2 separate regions of the Homo sapiens genome follow, and region 2 is linked to region 1. The links come from fine-mapping of genetic effects on gene expression. A gene starts in region 1. The other region holds a variant in brackets. All regions are shown on one strand. Distances are between the middles of the regions.

Region 1 (8,346 bases):
TTTTTTGTTACTTAAATATTTTGGAAGACAATTTTGATTTTCATATGCAAGAAAGTTTTTCCTCATCTGAGCATCTGCTTTGATAAGAAGAAAAATCCCATAGCAAATATTTTAATGTTAATACAACCACAGCTAGCAGCAATAGTCACTAGTCCTTTTATGACTGTTCCAAACATATACTCTGTTTTCTATTTCCAGTTGTCTAATTTGTCACTAACGTAATAACTAGGGAAACATCTGGCAATTTATAGTTCTTTAAATTATAAGATTTTTTTTCTGTGATTGAAATATTGCATTTTAGAGCTTTAATAGGATAATGGTAGTCACTTGCCAATTTAGTTGAATATTACCTTAAGTCCCTATAGATATTCCTTGATTTAAGATGGCTTTATATATTAAGCTATTAAAAAGTTGATTTTTAGAAGCTAAAGTTCATATTATGAATAAAACAAAATGTAAAGTGATAGCTAAATTTAGGATACAAATCGATCAAATTTACTGTTGCTTATCAGAGATTGAGTATACTGCTTTAACAAGCAGCTACAGTGAAAAGAAACACAAACCACATAATCCAATGATCTTAGGCAATTTTGAAAAAGAAACATTAGGAGAATTTTGAAGGAAACTAATAGCATTTTCCAATCATCACGTGTTGGAAAGCTGATTTGTCAGTTTGCTAGATAACATGGGAGAAAAGTGTTCCTAAGCTGGGCTTGGACACTTGGTCACATTGTGTTGCTCTGGCTCCATATTTGTTTATTGACACAGCATATCTTCAAAACAACGTTTTAATCTTTACAACACTTGGACTGACTTCAAACTTCTAAACACAATTCTTAATTTGGTAGCCTACTTGGGAGACTCTTTGGCATTCTCCAGTCATGACTGACCAGAAAAAGGGCTAGGTAAACTAATAAGCATGCGGCTAGAGGGCAGGAGCTCGCATTAAGCAGCCAAAACACCTAAATGTGAGGGGTCACTATTTTTGTCCCTGTAACAAATTCGAAAGCAAAATACAGCAACTCTCAGTTATCTGCTTGAAAGGACACTGTGGCAGCACAGATAAAATGACAGCAGACATGCATCATGCATTTAAACTATGAGTTTTAAATTCCTTCTCAGCTAAGCATTTTACCTGGGCTTTGGGTAAGTAGCAGAGTAAACTTTTCTTCCTTATTTTCCCTCTAGCATAGGGGAAAATTAGTCATTAGTATTAATTAGTCATAATTGAAATAATAACAGCAGTCGTAAGTAGCAGCAGGAACAAAAAACCAAAACAAAATTATATACACAAATACTCACACAACTCTGATCCCAAACTAGAAAGAAGAAAAAGAAAAGTGAGAAACCTGAACAACCCACAAATCTGCCCTTTTCTGAATACTGACCCACGATAAGAGAGAGAAAGACTGAAGCTTAGAATGCTGTGGGACAGCAGCATTGCCGCAGCACCTGTGACTGAAAGACATTTTGCAAATCGCAAGGAAGACAAGTCTTCCATTGGCATCAGTGGAACCGGTGGAAGAAAACCAATTTTATTCTGAGTTGGATGATGGAAGAGTTGATTCAGTTTAAGGTCAAAGAAGAGCAGAACCAGAAATCAAGGCCTCAGGATGGGAACAAAGAACAATGAAGTCAGGGGGAAAAAAGGTGGCGGGGAGAGAGAGTGGGTAACAGACTTGAAACTAAGAATCACAAAACTTAAGCAAATGTTGAGACCTAGCAATTATGATGGGCAGTTTCTATAACCTAGCCTTAAGCTTAGACTTTTATTTTAAAGCAATAACCAAAACAAAAGAAATTAAGGAATTATATCACTGGAGGGAACCTTATGGGCAGAGACTTGAGGTTCAGAGTTGTGAAATAATGCTCTTACTATCACACAGCAAGTTAAGTGGGAGTCTCCATTTCCCTTCTCCCCATGCTTTCCTGCCCCTGCACTGTCAGGAAGGGTGGTGGAGAGGAAGGAGAAGGTACCAGGGCACCCGGGAATACATCACAGCCTGAGGACAGGTTATGCAGGTGGGGCCTTTATAGCTAGGGAAACACCGGAGAAGACAAGGGAAGTATGGCAGTTTCTTCCTTAGAGAAGACTTATAAGGGGGTTAAAGCATATGCTATGTGAAATAAACACCTGGAGATCCAAAACCCTCAGGTGGTAACTAATAATAAGAGAATCATGTTGGGATGCAGCATCTTCAGCGGGAAGCACAAGTTGCTCAACAAAGTAATAAAATAGATCAATAGGGTGCCAAATTTCTTGCCTCTATTACTTTCTCTTCTCAGAATGACACAGGAAATAAATGTAGCCAAGTCCCAAATCTGATCCCAGTACCCAAACTTTCATTAAAAGAGGGCTCCTGAAGGGGGGGAGTAGGTTTTTAATACTTAACGAGGCTATCAGCAAACAAAGAGAAGAGGCCCAGGTGGGCTCAATAGCCAGGTCACAAATGGTTGCCCAAAGAAAAAAACGGTGCAGAAGGAGACGCTTTGGGGAAGAATTGCTGAGGTCTTCGGGAGACTATAGCAGGCTGGCACTATGGAGATGTTTACCTGGACATTTAAGAAAATTGGAGGATGGAGTTGGGTGTCGGGCAGTGGCCTGCCAGAGGCTCTGTTTAGTCCTGGAAGCAGGAGACCTTTTGCTAAAATTCTGTCTCAGTTACACACATGCATTGGCTAAGGCTGTAGGGATTGGGGTGTGGAGACATCTTGCTTCTCCTTCCTCAGTTTGATTATTCAAAGGACATCTGGGAACCCTGAGGGTGGGAGAGTTTGGCCAAGGTTGGAGCGATGTCCCGTGTCTAGGACCCACCGCTATGGTTTGCAGGGAGAGAGCTAAAGGGACGTGAGCAGTGCAGGGACATTGACTGGGAAGCAGAGGGCGTGGATGGAGACACTCTTAACTTCACCTCAAAAGTAGCACAACTTTTAAACGAACGCCTTGCAGAGTCATACCGGCTTCCCGCTCAGATGATGGCTAAAATACAAGAGTTAACTAAAAGCCTCAGGAAGAAAGTTTATTGAATTGCATCTTATTTCTGTAGATTTCTTCCTTGCACTCGGAAGAGTTTGGTTAAAATGGATTGAGAATTTCGAGGCACGTGGCAAACAAACCTACCTTGTTCCCTCCCATTCCAGAAGCCCCTCACCTGATTTGGGAAAGTGTGGCCAGCTCCAGGGGCAGGCGCTGACCAGAACTACGGTCGCTCTTTCCTTGGTCCCCGAGAGCTTCCCAGTATAGAGCCAGCAGTTAGGACACCGTGACATGAAACTTAGCACCCCGCCCTTGAAGTCCCCCAAGCATGCCTGGCGGTCCGCGCGGACTCACCCGCGCCCCGGGCGCTGCGTCACGTCCCGCCGAGGGCCGGCTGCGCTGGTGCGGGTCTCCCGCCCGCCGCCTCGGCGTCCCGGCTGTGCGCCCTCACTCGCTGGGTCCGCTCCAGCCGCTCCCCATCGATCACCGCCGCGGCCCGGCAGAGCTGCTAGCGGCGCGCCGGTCCAGACGTCCTGTCACTCGCTGCTGCCTGGGGTCCTGGCTGTCAGGCGCTGGAATCATTGGCGAGGAGGCAGCTCCGAATTTATAGTGAGGGGCGTTGCTGCTTCTTGGGTTCCGGGGACGAGGCTCTGTTTTGCATTCCCTCCTCCTCCGCCCCGCCCCGGGAGACCCTCCCGGCCCAACCTCCTCCCTCTCGGGATATTGACGGCAGCAAGGATGATGCCACAGTCGTCCCGTGTCAACTATCAGATCAGCGTTCACCTGGTCCCGAACCCCGCCTAGCGAGGGGTCGTGAGGGAGAGCGAGCTGGGGGTACAGGAGTATCATTTCCTGCGGAGATTCGTGTTCTTCAACATTTTTTTTTTCTGAACTTGGAAAACTTTTAAGGACGAATTAGAGAACTTCTTTCTCTTTCCTATGAGTAACTCGAACTTTGGTAATACAGTTGTGGATCATAGATTACATGGATTAATTCCAGGGTTATGAAATTCAAGGGTGGACACTCATTTGTTCCTATTGGACATGCTACCCAAGTTGCATTTTAAAAATGTATTTTAAAAACCCAATAAATATTTAAAGAAGAAATAATATCAATTCTTCACAAACTCTTCCAAAAAATAGAAGAGTAAGGATGATCTCCCAACTCATGCTATGAGGCCAGTATCACCCTGATAACAAAACCAGATAAAGACATCACGAGACTACAGATCAATATTTCTTAAGAGTATAGATAAAAATTCTCAACAAAATGTAGGCAAATTGAATCCAATAACATATGAAAGGGACTATACACCATGGTCAAGTGAGGTTGATGCCAGAAAGCAAGATTAGATTAGTTTACCAAAAATCAATTAATGTTAGATAGGTGAGTAGGGTGACTGTAGTTTACAGTAATCTATTGTATATTTCAGAGTAGCTAGGAGAAAATAACTTGAATGTTTCTAGCATGAAGAAAAGACAAATATTTAAGGTGATGGATATGCCAATTGCACTGATTTGATCTTTATATGAATGCATTAAATTATTGCATGTACCTAAAAAGTCCTGTCACTCGCTGCTGCCTGGGGTCCTGGCTGTCAGGCGCTGGAATCATCGGCGAGGAGGCAGCTCCGAATTTATAGTGAGGGGCATTAAATTATTGCATGTACCTAAAAAGTGTACATCTATTGTGTATCAATAAAAATAAATTTAAAGAAGTAAAAAATGGACAAAGCCTACATGATTGTCTAAAAAAATTTTTAAAAACTATTGGACAAAATTCAACACTTTTTCATGCTAACACTCAACAAACTAGGAATAGGAACTTCCTCAAACTGTGAAGTTTATTTATGAAAAACTTAACTAATATCACACATAATAACGGAAGACAACGTTTTTATGTCTAAGATCAGGAACAAGACAAAATGTCTAGTCTTCCCATTTCTATTTAACTTTGTACTAAAGGTTCTAGTGAGGGCAATTGGACAAGAAAAAAAGATAAATGGCATCCAGATTAGAAAGAAAGTAAAACAATTTCTATTTGTAGATGACATGATCTTGTATTAAAAAGCCCTAAGGAATCAATTAATTAACTATTAGAACTAAGAAACAAGTTGAGCAAGTTTTTAGAATACAAGATCAATATACAAAAATCAGTTGTATTTCTATACACTAGCAATAAACAATCAACAAATGGAATTAAGAAAACAATTCCACTGTTGGCTTCTCACCACTTGCTGTGTGGGTCTGTGTCCTCTCCCTGCCTCACATGCTGCCATGCCTCAAAAAGTTAAGGAGATCAAGGACTTTCTGCTTACAGCCAGGTGAAAAGATGCCAGATCTGTCAAGGTCAAGAGAAATAAGGATAATGTGAAGTTTAAAGTTTGATGCAGCAGATACCTTCATACATTAGTCATCATAGACAAAGAGAAGGCAGAGAAACTGAAGCAGTTCTGGCACCCTGGTTTGTTAGAGAAGGAGATGAAATCAGACACACTGATTTGAACTGTGTTAAAAATTTAAAAATTCAAAGATAAAAACAATTTTACTTACTATAGATCAAAAGAGTAAAAATACTAAGAAATGACCTGGTGTAGTGGCTCACTCCTGTAATCTCAGCACTTTGGGAGGCCGAGGTGGGTGAATCACAAGGTCAGGGATTCGAGACCAGGCTGGCCAACATCGTGAAACCCTGTCTCTACTAAAAATGCAAAAGAAAAAAAAAAAAAAAAAGCCAGGCGTGGTGGTGCATGCCTGTAGTTCCAGCTACTCAGGAGGAGGAGGCTGAGGCAGAAGAATCGCTTGAACCCAGGAGGTAGAGGTTGCTGTGAGCTGAGATTGTGCCACTGCACTCCAGCCTGGGTGACAGAGTGAGACTCCATCTCAAAACAAACCAACCAACCAACAAAACAAAACAAAACAAAAAAAACCCTAAGAAATAAATTTAACAAAAGGATCTAAAACTTGTAGTCTGAAAACAAACAAAAAGAATTGTTGAAATAAGGTAGACCTAAATAAATGGAATGACATTCCATGTTCTTGGATTGAAAGATTTAATATCGTTACAATGGCATTAATCTTCAAATGATCTACAGGTTAAACAAAATCTCTATCAAAACCCAGCAAGCTTTTATTGCAGAAATGAATGGAGTTATCCTAAAAACATGTAGCAGTGCGAGGGGCCCAGAATAGTCAAGACAATTCTGAAAAAGAACAAACTTACCAATTTCAAAATTTACTGCAAAATTACAATAAACAAGACAATGTGGTACTGGCATAGCAATAGATAGAAAGATCAATGGAACAGAATTGTGTCCACAAACTAAACCCTTACATTTATGAGCCACTAGATTTTGAAAAGGGTTGAAAAAATGCAGAATGAGTAATCTTTATTACAAATGGTACTGGAATAATTGGATATCTGCATGCAGAAGAATGAAGTTGGACTCCTTATAATACCACATGTAAAAATTAAGTCAAAATGGATCATAGACCCAAGCTTAAGAGAAAAATTATAAAACTAAATAGAAAACGTAGGAGTAAACCTTTGTTACCTTGGGTTATGCAAAGCCATCTTAGATACAACTCCAAAAGCATAAGAAATACAAGAAAAAGTAGGTAAATTAATTTGATTTCATCAATATTAACAGCATCTATACTTCCAAGGGTATCAAGAAAGTGAAAAGAAAAAGCCAAGAATGTGCAAAGATATTTGCAAATTATATACCTGATAAGGACTTGTGTATAGAACATATAAAGATAATAAAGCACACACAAAGATAATAAAAACACCATTAAAAATGGTCAAAGGATCTTAATATACATTTCTCTAAAGAAGGTAGACAAACACATAAAAAAACTCAACATTATTAGCCAGCAGGAAAATGCAACTCAAAGGAACAATTAGTTATGATTTTAGGCCTACTAGGATAGCTATAATCAAAAAGTCAGATAGTAACAAGTGTTGTCCAGAATGTGGAGAAATTGGATCCCTCATATATTGTTGGTGGGAATATAAAATAGTGCAGCCATTTTGGAAAACAGTGGCAATTCTTCAAAATGCTAAGCATAGATAGAGTTACCATATGGCTCAGCAATTCCATTCCTAGGTATATACTCATTAGAAATGAAAACATATGTCCACACAAAAATGTAGACGTGAAAATTCATAGCAGCATTATTCATAATAGCCCCAAAGCAGAAATAAGTCAAATATCTATCAACTGATGAATAGATAAAATGTGATATCTCCATACCATAGGATATTGTTTGGCAATAAAAGGGAATAAAGTACATGTTACACATGGAAGTGCCTTGAAAACCTTGTGCTAATTGAAAGAAGCCAGTCACAGAAGAAGACATATTATATGATTTCATTTATATGAAATATTCAGGAGTGACATAACTGTAGAGAATTTTGATTGCCTAGGCTGAGAGTGGAGGGGTAGGAGGGAATGGTAGTGTCTGCTAATTGGACGATGATAAAAAATTGTACATTTGATTATGGTGATCATTACACAACTTTTGTATGTTTGAAAACATACAAAAAACATTGAACTGTACATCTTTGTTAAAAGACAAACCTAGTCAAATTAAATTTAACAGTGCTTAATTGAGCAAAGAGTGATGTGCAAATCGGGCAGCCACTGAACTGCAATAGGTTCAGAGAGACTCCAGCACTGCCTCGTGGTTGAAAAAGATTTATGGGCAGAAAAAGGAAAGTGATGTAAAGAAGACAAAAATGAGGTACAGAAATAGAATTGGTTATAATTTGGCATTTGCCTTATTTGAACACAGTTTGAACAACTGACCACCTTAGATATGCTGAAACTCTGTGATTGGCACAAGAGTAGGTTTCAGTCTTTTCAGCATCCAGTTAGGTTACAGTTCACTACATGCTGAGAAACTTTTAGGCCAAATTTAAAATACGTAAGGAAGCAGCTTTAGGATAAACTTAATTCTTTAAATGGGTGAACTGTATAGTATGTAGAGTATATATAAGTAAAGCTATTTTAAAAAGGTAAAATATGAAATTTGTGTAGATGAGTAAAGACATGAATGTCTGACTTTTGTTTCTTGCTTCCAAGTTTCTGAAGAGAGAAGAGGGGCTCAGTTCCTATCTTTCATGCAATGGCTAACACCTCTGTGCTAGACCACATTGTGGATCAGGAAAGTAATATAAATTATTAATAATTAAAACCTATTTTTAAAATAAAGGTTTTTATTTAGCAACATACCATATGTTGAAATGACTTACATGTTTTGAATTTTCATTAAATTAAAAATGGCAAATTTACTTAAATATAATCAAGCATGTAGTAAGCATAGGTTTCTGCAGGAGAACTTTCTCAGAATGCAAACCTGAGGAA
Region 2 (8,346 bases), 39 kb after region 1:
CTAAGATTAAATAGACTAAATTTACTTTTATTTACAGTCTCTTCAAATAACTTTCTTTAAAGACATCACTCTCTTAAATAAAGATTCTTGTCTCACCTAAAGTACTCTCTTAATTACAAAAGGCCAAGCAAAATGCTTCCAAGGAAAAAAGTTTTCTTAGCTTTTATGATCAATTTGTAAAAAAGAAACCTGATATTTTTCAACTGTGTTCCTTTTTCTTTTATAGATTTTACAATTGATTAGATACCTCATTAGTATTTATGTAACAAATACAAATAAGCATGTATAGAGGTAGTAAGTTGCCTTTTGAAACAAGGGACATTCATGTTTTCATCCTTAAACTTACATGTATTAAAAAAATCATGGTTTAGCTAAATAAAACTTTAGCTAAAGAATTAATACTTAAAAATATGTAATTCCTAAAATAATTTCTTTAAATGATAGCAAGAATAGGGTGTTAAAAAATGTTCAGTAATATAGAAAGAGCTGTAATATTCCTTGCACATTATGCTCTGTCGCACCTGAGAAATGCTCATGTTAATGTTTTTCCCTCTGCCGGATCCTTTTCCTTATGCCTCTTTTTGCTCATTAATTCCTATAAATGCCTACATTCTTTAAACCCAATTCAGTTACCATATCATCCACGAAGGCTTCCCTGATGTCCACAGTGGGTGGACTTCCCTCCATTGTGTCCCTAACATGAGGACTTATGTCTTTTTCCATCACATCATGAGCTCTGGACCCTCAGGGACCATATGCCTAGTTAAGTGCCCTTCACAGGGTTCTGCCAACAAGAGAGGAATTTTAAACTTTATTGCATGTTGTTTAATGACATTTATGTTTTAAATAGCTCTTAAGGATTATTTTTGAAGCTGTGCAAATATTGCTCATCACATGATAGAGGCATTTGGAATATAAATATGACTTAAAATATACTGAGCACCAATCATAAAAGATATAGAAGCTAAAGAAAATACCACAAGCCTCCTCATGATTTGTTTTTCCCTTTGAGAATTATTCTCTGTGAAATTTAGTAAGCTAAGAGCTCTGTTTGTTTTTTCCTAAGCTGTGTTTATGAAATGCTGTGTTTAACAGATATTTTTCTAAGTTTGATAAATTCTGTACAAGTTCATGAATTTACACGCAAAACATTTGGCCCTCATTTCATTTCAGTCTTCTTCTAATCAACTTAAATGTACCATCAGCCTCCATCTCACATATTTCAATATTCATTCCACTCCTTCAACCACCTCTTCCCCTCAAATAACCTTCAGAGAAATAGCAATTATTTGAGAAAATGAAATCAAGTAAATAAGCTGTATTAAACTAGAAACCAAGTAGCCAGCCGTATTAAAGATATCCAAGGTTTGTATGTCTGGGTGAAACAACAATAAATATTTATTTTGATGCTTCTTTTTATGAGCATTTCAAGGCCCAGCTGTGGTATTAATGGCTTATCAAGCAAACCTATGCATTAAGAGAAACTGTTTTCATTTAGATAAATGGAAGCAGAGGCAAAGGAAAATGATGCAAGGCTCACCTTGTGAAAGTCACAAATTAGATACAAAGCACTGCCACAGGCAAATTTGAATTCAATAGAATAAAGCTAGCAGCCATGAACATCAGGTAATAGGCTTATCAAATGAGGTTTGTATTTTTTATAATGTACATTTTATGGGGACCAGTGTAAAACCAGTAGGCAGAATAAAATATAATTTTAAATATAATATAATAAAATATAATATATATTTTATATAATATATATTTTAAATATAATAAAATATAATTTTAAAAGAAAAATTCAATGAGCGATTCTTTTTCTAAGTTGAAAAACAACCTGTCTCAAATTTGCACCAAATGAAAGGCCCAGAGAAGTTTGTAAATGAGCTCCCTCACCTCCTAAAACCTTATGATTCTACCCACAGAATCTCATCTTCTACTCCCACGTACCATACCAGCCTCCAAGCCTGCCTCAAGACAGGAATATTTGGCATAAAGTACAGTATTAAAAAAAATAAAGGAATAAAGGATGAAAAACCTGGGTCAGCACTTATGATACAAAACCACATAGATTCAGTTTAAAAAAATACTTATCGTTTTGGTCATGAACATCATTTTATAAGTGCATTTATCCAACATTTATTCAATACTCATTATGTGCCAGTGTCTATTAACTCATTTAATCTTCCCAAATTTCTGAAAAACAATAGACCATGTCCTTTAAAACAAAATTCATTTATATTAAAATATAAATACTACATGCAATAAAGGTCTTATGTTGAGCCATATGTTGAACCAAAGTCTTATGTTGAAATGTTGAAACTTAAAATTGGGCTCGTCCCCTACATCAGGATCTCTGTTTCCTTTGAACTTCTGCCGAAATTGTTAACCTATAGAAGTGCACGTGTTTTCCTTGCTTTATTTGCAAGCTTGCATTGCTGTTATTCTAGAGTAATTAGCAGCACACACCAGGATTCCTCTCTTTCATTGCTGTCACCATCTTCCAACGGCTAACAGACTCTTAGTTTCTAATCCTCCATGGATCAGATTAATTTAAAATAAAATCCTAATGAGATAGGAACCTAGCATACAGTCATAAATCATCTTTTATGTATCACCACTCTGTTGGAAGCTTTACAGGGTAGAAATATGACAAATGTGTATGTTGTAAGGTTGACATATTTATAAACCGAGAATCCTAAAATATTGTGACATATGCAAAAGTGGAATTATGTACAGACTAGGAAAGTACATGGCAGGAATGGAGCCTGTTGGCAGAGTAATGCTTCACAGAAGCCTAGGAGCTGAGTTTTTAAGGATTAGTAAGAGTCAGTGAAGGAAAAAGTGCCAGAAAGGAGAGAAAATAGGTAGAGAAAATTAAGAATTATGAAGGATCAGCATGTGCAAACACATGAAGGCATGAAACTGCCTGGTGGAGCCGGGAAATTGCACGTAGGTTGTTATTACTGGAGCATCAAGTAAATAGGTGGAGAAATGTACTCATTAGTGTAATTGTTGCTACTATCATAAATACATCCTCAAATTTCAGTGACTTAACAGAACACAAATTTATTTCTTATTCATGTAAAAGACCAGTGGTAGTGTTCCTGACTGGTGAGTGCCAGTCTTCTACACCATGTAGTGACTCAAGGATCCAGATTTCTTCCACTTTGTGGTTCCGTTATTCTCTAAGACTTTGTCTCCCTGGTATTCAGCTGGCAAAAGAGGAGAGCGGGGGTGAGGAGAAGGCTCTTCTGTTTAAACTCTATTAGCACAGGAGCAACACATCTCACTTCTGTTGATAGTCCACCGGCAAGAACTAGTCACATCGACCATTCTTAAATGCAAGAAAAGTCAGGAAACGTAGACCCTAACTGACAGTAACTTTTCAATAACCACTTATATTATGGAAGGGAGGAGCACCAAGTTTAAGGATCAGCTAGCTGTCTCAGCCATGGGGAACTACTTATTCCTTTACTCATGCTGACTTCTCACTAATCAGTTTAACTAAAGTCTGAAATTAGGGCTGAGGAAGTGAATGGAACTCTTGGCTGATAGAGGGAGCATGGATAGTAGAAAGATCGTTATCCTTTCCACCCTTCCTGAAGCTCCTGATTTTTCC[A/G]GAGCAAGTATGGGTCCATCAAAGAAATGATGGCTTGAGAAGGTACACAAATGCGGCCTCTTGGAGAGGGGAGATATGGCTATTGGGGGAACAAGGTTAGGATGTCTGAATAAATTGAGTCCTCATTTAGTTAAGCCTTCGAATAGTTAATGTTCATTTTACTATTTCACTGATAGAGATCTCATGTTATTTTGTTTAGGATCAGTGTTTATTGTGAAATCATCTGTTCCACAATGATGACTTCAGGAATTTTAGACTGTAAAGCAAATGTTTAAACTTTCAGATTATGTGAAAACTTTCAATTATTTATGCATTGACTTACTTGTTTATTTAACAGTAGTTTCTAAGCACTTATATGCCAGGTGCTTGAAGAGAAACAAAGCTGTAAGCATATCTCTGGGTGGTTGGGTGGGATTTAGAAGAGTAGTTCTCAACATTTTTTTGATACCAACACTTCTAAGGATTGACACATATTCGCAGTGGAATTAATTTTCAACCTGCAAGATGTGCTGTTCGCTCCCATCCACCCTTGCCACGGGGATCAATGCCAAACCTCCAGTGAGGATCCTCTATATTTGCAACTTGACAAAGTACTATAAGTGATACAATATGATGTTCTTTGGCAGGTCATGTCTCCATCTTGTGTCCCACTGATAATTACTGATTCTGACATTCAGCTACCACCTCAATAAGGCTGAATGCATTCCACATGAGTAAGCCAGAGATTTCAGTAGATAGAATACAGGGGCTCTAGAAAGGAGAAAATGCAATAGGATATATTCAGAGTGTTGTAAGAGAGACAGCCATATCTCATTAAAAAATTGTTTTAAAAATATCATATACTGATTCTAGCTAAACCATCCAACTGTGTAGTAGCTACCTAATTACTAACGGTAGATTTTTGACAGGTATATCTATGTGGACATTTTTGTACCTGAAATCAAGAAGAAAAAAAAGATAATCATATGTGAATTCAAGATAAAAAAATACAAGGAGAAAGTTTCGGAACTTAATGTTTTTATGCAGTTTGACAATGTTAACGTGCTTGAGCTACTGTTGAATAAAAAGGCTGAATTACAATAGGTGTTGAAAGTGTTCAATGAAATAAATCCTGTTGAGTCTCAGGTCCTTTGAAGTGTGTATTATGCAATCACTAAGAACCGTTTGCTTGAAATCAAGTACTTGCCCTGCTTGTACTTTGCTATATACAATTTCACATTAGTTAGACGAATTAATAACCATTACAATTTCCAACTTCATTAGAGGTGGGGATTCTGTCTTGAATTTCTGTAGAAGGAAATAATTTGCTGCTATTGTGGATAGGTATCAATTGTCAACTCTAGTTCCATAGACCTGGTATAGTTGTTTTTTTTTTTTGTACCTTCTGTCAGTTTGAGGTCAGTTTCTTCTTATGAATGAGAAGCCGCCTTTGCCCTTCAAGAAAATGAAATAAAGCCAGAATAACCTTCCTGCTTCCCCTGCCTGCCTTCCCAGTCTAGTATTTCAGCATCTGAAGAGTTTATTTTTGGATGTCATTAAATATAGCTAGTGATCCTTTAAATGAAATGGATTAAATGGCAAATGGCTTAGCATCTTCTACCCTTCAGTCTAGTCACCTGAAAAAATTCACAATTCAAAATATGATTTATAACATAACCCTTCTTCATCTCTATTTCTATTATTTCTTGGGAAAAAAGTTTCCTTGCTGATAATGTTGAAGTGTATGCTGACGTTACTACCTTTCATCAATATCTTCTTATGGTAGTAAAGTGGCTACTTTTTAGTTTTCTCACCTGTTGTTTGGAATTTTCCATGGCTTCAAAGATTTTACAGGGGAAGAAAAAAACCATAATTTCCCCAAGACATATTTTGCCAATGGAGAGTTTTCTCCCTTTAGGAATTTTCATATGTGTATGATATTTTGAGCCATTTGTTTGTTAATTCTCACAATTTCTTACAAGTAGTCCTGTCTTCCAAAGCTAAAAATATACTGCAGCTACATATCCTAAGTGATAATGCATATATATACATATATATACTATATGCTATCATATCGTATACACATATATCTGATAAAATGATTTGAACACATTAATTATTAACAACTTTAATTTTTTTAAACTGAAGAACATTATCTCAAACACATCTTTTCTTTTGACAGTACAAAACTGAGGTCTTTTCTTGAATAATGAGATTCTGAATTGATTGGACACATGAGCAGGTATAGACCCAAATGTCATTGAGGGGAAATTTGGGTAAAATACAAGAAAAGTTTTCACTTTTAAGAGAACTGGTTTCTAATCTAATTTATTAGATTCAACAAATGCATATTGAGCACCATCTATAAGTCTAGGTGAGTATGAGAAGTGAAATTAAACATTAAAATATCTCTGGGCTCCTAGTCCCTCGGAAGTGACAATTTAGCAGCCACAAAAAGAATAAAATATCTGGGAATAGAGCTAAATAGGTAGGTGAAAGATCTCCATGGCACGAATTATAAAACACTGCTGAAAGAAAGTAGAGATGACACAAACAAATGGAAAAGCATTTCATGCTCATGGATAGGAAGAATCAATATTGTTATAAGGCCATTCTGCCCAAAGCAATTTGCAAATTCTATACTATTCCTAAAAAACTACCAATGTCATTTTTCACAGAATTAGAAAAAAAATTCTAAAATTCATATCAAACCAAAAAAGAGCCAAGTAGCCAAAGCAATCTAACCAAACAGAACAACACCAGAGGAATCACACTACCTCACCTCAAACTATACTACAAGGCTACAGTAACTAAAACAGCATGGTACTGGTACAAAAAACAGACACATAGACCAATGGAACAGGTTAGAGGACCCAGAAATAAAGCCACATACCTACAACCATCTGATCTTTGAGAAAATTCATAATAAGCAGTGGGGAAATAACATGCTATTCAATAAATGGTTCTGAGATAACTGGCTAGGCATATGCAGAAGATTGAAACTGGGCCCCTTCCTTTCACCATATACAAAAATCAGCTAGTAGTGGGTTAAAGACTTAAATCTAAGACTTAAAACTATAAAAGCCCTAGAAAACAACCTAGGAAATACCATTTTGGACACAGGCCTTGACAAATACTTCATGACAAGAAGTCTTCAGAAGCAATTGCCAACAAAAACAAAACTAGACAAATTAATTATTTGTCTATTTAGAAACCTAAATTGTTTGTCTATTTAGAAACCTAAAACTAAAGCATACTGTGCAGCAAGGGAAACTAACAACAGAGTAAACAGACAACCTACAGAATGGGAGAAAATATTTGCAAATTCTGCATCTGACAAGTTCTAATATGCAGAATCTATAAGAAATCTAAACAAATCAAAAAGCCAAAAACCCCAAACAGCCCATTAAAAAACGGGCAAAGAACATGAGCAGACAATTCTCAAAAGAAGACACATATGTGGCCAACAACCACATAAAAGAATGCTCGGCTGGGGTTGGTGGCTCAGGCCTGGCATGGTGGCTCACACCTGTAATCCCAGCACTTTGGGAGGCTGAGGTGGGAAGATCATGAGGTCAAGAGATTGAGACCATCCTGGCCAATATGGTGAAACCCCATCTCTGCTAAAAATACAAAAATTAGCTGGGCATGATGGTGCACACCTGTAGTCCCAGCTATTCAGGAGGCTGAGGCAGGAGAATTGCTTGAACCTGGGAGACGGAGGTTGCAGTGAGCTGAGACTGTACCACTGCACTCCAGCCTGTGACAGAGTGAGACTCCATCTCAAAAAAAAAAAAAAAAATGCTCAACATCACTAATCATGAAAGAAATGCAATCAAAACCACCGTGAGATACCACCTCACACCAGTCAGAACTGTTATTATTAAAAATTCAAAAAACAACAGATGCTGGCGAGGTTCCAGAAAAAAGGGACTCCTTATACGCTGTTAGTGAGGGTGTAAATTAGTTCAGCCACTGTGGAAAGCAGTTTGGAAATTTCTCAAAGGAAAAACAGAACTACCATTTGTCCCAGCAAACTCATTACTGGGTAAATATTAAAAAGAAAACAAATTATTCTACCAGAAAGTCACATGCATTTGCATGTTTATCACACCCCTATTCATAATAACAAAGACATGGAATCAATATAGGTGCCCATCAACAGCAGACTGGATAAAGAAAATATGGTACGTATACACAATGGAATACTATGCAGCCATAAAAAGGATGACATTTTGTTCTTTGCAGCAACGTGGATGCAGCTGGAGACCATTAACTCAAGGGAATTAATGTAGAAACAGAAAACCAAATACCACATGTTCTCACTTATAAGTGGGAGCTTAACATTACGTATACATGGCAACAGTGGACACCGGGGCCTCTTTGACAGGGGAGGGTGGTAGGAGGTTGAGGGTTGAAAAACTATCTATTACTGGGTACTATGCCCAGTAGGTGGATGATGAAATAATTTGCACACCAAATCTTTGCAACGTGCAATTTACCCACGTAGCAAATGTGCACATGTACCCCCAAATCTACAATAAAATTTGACAAAAAAAAGAAGCGACAATTCAGAATTGGACTTAATTATGGGCTTCCCATAAATTATATTAAGACGTCAGAATCTAATGGTTACAACCCTTTTCCTTCACTAGCTTCTCTCCTATTGCCAGGCTATTTCAATAGCTTAGGATATGTAGACATCAGCGCAACCCGCAGAATTAGTAATTATTCCCTCAAAGGAC

What was found.
Region 2: its variant is fine-mapped to the expression of AGTR1 in lung (TOPMed, PIP above 0.99).

What each region holds. Positions count from the first base shown.
Region 1 is chr3:148,693,113-148,701,458 of GRCh38, reverse strand. It overlaps AGTR1 (angiotensin II receptor type 1), which reads right to left and starts at 3,556. Exons shown (of 3, transcript NM_000685.5): 1 at 3,332-3,556. It also overlaps the pseudogene RPL38P1.
Region 2 is chr3:148,654,085-148,662,430 of GRCh38, reverse strand. No RefSeq gene overlaps it. Among named protein-coding and RNA genes, the nearest start is that of AGTR1, 40 kb to the left of the region's middle. The variant A/G (reference allele first, on the strand shown) is at 3,623.